2 separate regions of the Homo sapiens genome follow, and region 1 is linked to region 2. A link means that fine-mapping ties the variant in region 2 to the expression of a gene that starts in the linked region. Tissue or cell type: whole blood. Region 2 holds a variant in brackets; the other region holds the start of a gene. All regions are shown on one strand. Distances are from middle to middle.

Region 1 (2,500 bases), 45 kb before region 2:
GGGTTAAGGGGCGAGATGGGAGTGGAGGAAGGCCCAACTCATCTGCCAGCCTCCAGCCCTCACGCAGGGAGGGCATGGATTGGCCTCTCCGGAGCTCAGGGCAGAAAGGCGAGGGGGAAGCCCTGCTGGTGGGGGCCACAGGATAGCTGGGCAGCGACACCATCTGTGAGGAACTGATGTCGATTTCTCTCTTCTTTCCTATGGAGGGCAGCCAGTGGAAAGGCTTTTTCCTCTTCAACCGAGGGATGGACTTCAATTCCTTCACTGGATCCATCCTTCCTGGCTCATTGAGAAACTCTGGTGGACGGCTGAGTTGGATGAGGTAGTTCAGGTTGAGGTTAGAGCACTGCACTTGGGCGAAGCCAGTGCTGTGAGGCCAGGGGATAGGGCACAGCTTGAACGTCCCAGCGGGGCAGACAGGGTGCAGCTTGTCCACATCCCCAGAGGCCTGCTCTGCCCTCAGCAGGGCCTGGAAGTCGGCAAGCAGGCCACGGTAGACGTTGGGACTAGTAAGGAAGAGTGTGCAGTCCCTGGCGAGGCTGGCGGCCAACCGGGTGAGGGTGGCTGATTCAGTGAAGACCCCCCTGGGAGTCGACATGGTCACCAGCAGGTGCAGGTAGCGCAAGAAGAGCTGCTCGCTGCTCAGCAGCACGTAGGCCTCGAGCCGCTTCCGCAGCTTCTGGTTGTTTTTGTGGCTCAGACTAAGTTCGGCGGGCGGCTCCCGCCAGCTGCACTTCAGCTCGTCCAGGATGACCTTGATGAGACGTAGTCGGGCCTCAGGAGGCACTCCCGCTGCTATCCCGCTGCCGGCCAGCAGCTTGGCCACCTGGCTGCACAGCGACGCCACCGTCAGCTTCGCCAGAGGGAAGGACTGCAGAATCCGGCCCTCCTGCGGGGGGCGCTTCTGAGGCTCTGGGGACGTCGTCCTAGTGGGGAAGAGCGACAGCGGACGCAGCAGCCGGTGGTAAAACCGCTGGAGCTCAGGCTCGGGCTTCGGGGGCTCCATCATAGAGCCGGCGGCCGCCACCGTCCAGGAACAGAAAGCCGAGGGGTTACTAAGGCAACCAGGAGCCCGACGGCCCGAGTGCGCCTGCGCGGCCGCCACCCGGTGGCTGACGAAGCAGGGCCTTGCGTGCGCACGCACTAGGAGGAGGAGTTAAGGGTGGCTTTAGAGGCTCAGTCCCCGCGACGCCGCGCTGGTTGGTGCTCCTGCGCCGGAGGAGTTCTGCGTCTCGGGGTGGTGACTGGGTCCAGAATGGCTTCGGATTCGGGGAACCAGGGGACCCTCTGCACGGTGAGGGTCGAGGCTTCGTGTGGAGCCTCGCCGGGCAGAGAGCCTCGGCCCCTGGGATGATCGTTACCTTGGGAAGAGGAGAAGGAGTGGGCACTTGGGTTGGGGCCTGGGGCCATGGGATGAAACTAGGGTGCGAGGGTAGCAGGGGCCCTGCGTGAGTGTTGGGGGGTGACTCCCATGGTCCTGGAATGGTCATGAGAGATCATGAAGAAGGTGCTTGAAGAGGGGTTAAGTGGGGCTTGTTCCCAGACCCTTGCGGTGGTCATAGGGTAGGTGGTGAAACAAAGTCATACCAAGGCACTTCCCCAGCGATCATCGGTTGGTCCCTGCCGCCCTTGCAGTTGGAGTTCGCGGTGCAGATGACCTGTCAGAGCTGTGTGGACGCGGTGCGCAAATCCCTGCAAGGGGTGGCAGGTAAGAACAGGGTAAACTTTTCTGCAGACAGTCCAGAAGCCTCTGGGAGGGACCAGGCGAATCTATTAGGCGAACCCTACTCCCATTTTACAGATGCAGAAAGTGAACCCCAGAGAGTGAAAGGCATGTTCTCAGAGTTACACACAGACCTGGAGGCAGAGCCTAGAGTACAGCTGTCCAGCTTGCCCTGACAGATTCTAACTGCCTGTCTTGTTGTCCTGAACCTCAGGTGCCCCAGAGACTGAGGAGCTAGGCTGAGGGAGTTCCTGGGAAAACAGGCAGTTTTTGCTTGGGAAACAACATAATCTTGACAAAGCAAACAGCAGCTCAGGCCCTATACCATCCTGGGTAGCTTTCTATACCACTGGGTGTGGTGGCTCATGCCTGTAATCCCAGCACTTTGGGAGGCCGAGGTGGGTGGATCACCAGGTCAGGAGATCGAGACCATCCTGGCTAACACAGTTAAATCCTGTCTCTACTAAAAAATACAAAAAATTAGCCGGGCGTGGTGGTGGGCGCCTGTAGTCCCAGCTACTTGGGAGGCAGAGGCAGGAGAATGGCGTGAACCCGGGAGGCGGAGCTTGCAGTTAGCCGAGATCGCGCCACTGCACTCTAGCCTGGGCAACAGAGTGAGACTCCGTCTCAAAAAAATAATAATAATAAATAAAAGGCCAGCTGGTCTGGAGGTGACCTGGCACAATGAGAAAGATCTGGAAAGGTAGAGCCACCAGCATGGCTCTGGGAACTGGCTTCCTTTGATTCTGTTAAGTGTTTATCCAGGCCAGGCTCAGT
Region 2 (2,500 bases):
AGCCTCCTGAGTAGCTGGGATTACAGGGGCCTGCCACCACATTGGGCTAATTTTTGTATTTTTAGTGGAGATGGCGTTCACCATGTTGGCTAGGCTGGTCTTGAACTCCTGACCTCAGGTGATCCGCCCGCCTCGGCCTCCCAAAGTGCTGGGATTACAGGCGTGGGCCACCGCACCTGGCCCTCGTGTTGGGTTTTAAAACCCACTCTTTTTTTTCCCCCCCAAACTCTGACTTCACCTTTCTCTTTATGAAACCGTTCTCTTTTTGGGGCGGGGGTGGTGGTGAAGAAGCTGCTTTGGATGGTGGTGTGTGGTACTTGTGTCATCTTCACTCCTGATGATCCCTTTCCTCATAAACTCTGCACTGCTTTTAGCCTGTTTTGTTCGTGTTATAAGTTCTTCCATCCAGTCCCTGCACTCCACCTTTTAACCCTTTTCAAAAGCTGCTTCGCAAAGGGTCTTGACTAAAGTTGCTTGCTTAATGAATATGAAGCAGCCTAAGGATGAGAGAAAACGAGGCAGCAGCTGGACCCTCTGGAGAATGTTACTTTGTATTTTGTTTACAGCTGGTTGTGACTAAGCTCTGTCCTCTAAAGTCGGTTCTAGGGGATTAAAACAGCTCTGGCTGATGGCGCCCAATAAAATAAAACAAAAAAACCTTTGCTGCTCCAGTTTTTTCTCAGGGTGGGGTCGGGGTATACTTTAAATCTCCATGGTCTCAGAAAGGTTTCTTCATCGCGGACCCTGGGAGGCTGGTTCCCAGAGGGAACTTGTCCTCAGCGTCTCCTGGACAGTGCAGCCTCCTGCCGGGCCTACTTCTGGAAGGCCATTACAGAGGTCCTTTCACCACCTGTGAGAGGTTTGATTTTGGGGGAGCTCCGGGACTCTCAAGGCTACAGTGTGGACTGCTGGCCCAAGGAGAAGGTTGGTTTCCTGAAGTGGTGGGTGGTGGGTTGGG[G/A]GGGGTCTTCGTTGTTTTTCTTCCCTGGCATGTGCCTGCATAAGCTATTTCCACAGCGTCCTGGCCGCGAGGGGGGGTGGTGCTTGGGAGGTTAGAGGGAGACACCTAGAGTGAACGGCAAAATGGAGCGCGGAATACTGTCTGGCTGTGCACGTGGAGGTGGCGAAATGTGGAAGCTTAACGAAGTTGGCGCCATGAAGCTAAAGACTGCTACCCCGGGGCTCTAGCTCGCTCCGCCTAATGGCGGGCCGCACCCCGCCGGCGAAGCCCACGTTTGTAGGTCCGCCCTCACGCTGATCTCTTGCCCAATCAGCGAGTTCGGCTTCGCGAGGTTGGTGCCCATTGGCTTTCGCATAAAAGCTCCGAGGTTACAGACGTTTCCACCTCTTGCCGGCCTCTTAGGTAATTGGCGTCCGTGGTAACCAATCAGGAAGAGGATCTGAGGGAACGCCGGCCTTTTACTTTCTTGAGTGGCCAATCCGGTTGTAGGCTCACCTCCCCCTTCTACTCAGAGCACTGCTGCGGCCGCCGCCATTTTAGCGTTTTGTCAGAAGCGTCCGCGCCGCGAGGAGGAGGCCCTGCTGGTTTCTGTGCGGGTGAGACTCCGAGCCTTTCCACTGCCTTTCTTGTACTGTGTTAAATCTTCTCTCACTCCCTTGGGCTTCGGGGGTGTCCTGGTAGGTCCGCAGTCTCCACACCCGTCACTGAGAGCCGACCTCGGTCCTCGGCATTGCGCGGTAAGCCGGGAGCAGCCCTTCCCCCACCGCCCCCTGAGAATACCTTGCTTTTTTTCGCCCACCCTGTCCCGCGCCCGACATGGCTGCTCTTGGAGCCTCGAGATTTCCACTGGGATAACCCCCTTTCCCTTATATCTGACAGTTACATTCTCGTTTCGGGAATTTCTCGGGCCGTGAGACATCGTCTGGTTAATGAATCTGAAGCTCTTTTCCGCGGCCGCGCATTTCAGTGTTCGGCAGGAGCTAGGACGGTGCCCCGAGAGAGGCGTTCACCACTCCAGTATTTCCTTTATCTCCCACTCCTCGCTGTCTGATCCGAGTCGCGCGTTCATTACTTCCAAAGGAAACTCAAATGTAGCTATTACAAGGCCCATTTTCCCGGAAATGATGGCTGCTTTGGTTCCTACGTGAGGAAAAGCCTGTTGATAATTTCAGGCAGGCAGTCAGCAAGCCTAGTAGACTTTTGTTTTCTGTTGTCCTCCTAGTGGATAGAAAAGCCTAGTACCCCCATTTCTTCATATGCTGTCTTTCATGCCCATTTCTGTTGGAAGGTATCGGTTCTTACCAAACCCTTTGTCTACTAAGGACCTCCCTATTGCAGACGTCTTCTTATTCTTACAGGTTCATGGCGGCTACTATAGCAGGCCTTAGTTCACTCCCACTTCCATTTGATTATTGTGTGGAGGTGTGTGTGCAGGCGTGTGAGAGAGAAAACTGGAAATATACATTAGAGTGAAAGTCGTTGTCTTTTGTGAACGGATGTGGGCCTGAGGTCTTTTGTCAGATGTCTTGTTTTTCTCTCCCA

The links. PIP is the estimated chance that this variant, and not a neighbour inherited with it, causes the effect.
Region 1: CCS starts here. The variant in region 2 is fine-mapped to the expression of CCS in whole blood (TOPMed, PIP above 0.99).

The regions. Positions count from the first base shown.
Region 1 is chr11:66,592,007-66,594,506 of GRCh38, forward strand. CCS (copper chaperone for superoxide dismutase) reads left to right here and starts at 1,179. Exons shown (of 8, transcript NM_005125.2): 1 at 1,179-1,294; 2 at 1,636-1,708. The coding sequence starts at 1,256. It overlaps CCDC87 (coiled-coil domain containing 87), which reads right to left and starts at 1,057. Exons shown (of 1, transcript NM_018219.3): 1 at 1-1,057. The coding sequence starts at 1,009. RefSeq lists enhancers at 1-432, 433-1,021, 584-643, 814-923, 954-1,043.
Region 2 is chr11:66,637,199-66,639,698 of GRCh38, forward strand. The region is part of intron 1 of RBM14-RBM4 (RBM14-RBM4 readthrough); the gene reads left to right. RBM4 (RNA binding motif protein 4) reads left to right here and starts at 1,505. Exons shown (of 4, transcript NM_002896.4): 1 at 1,505-1,554. RefSeq lists enhancers at 956-1,669, 1,434-1,803, 1,670-2,381. The variant G/A (reference allele first, on the strand shown) is at 959.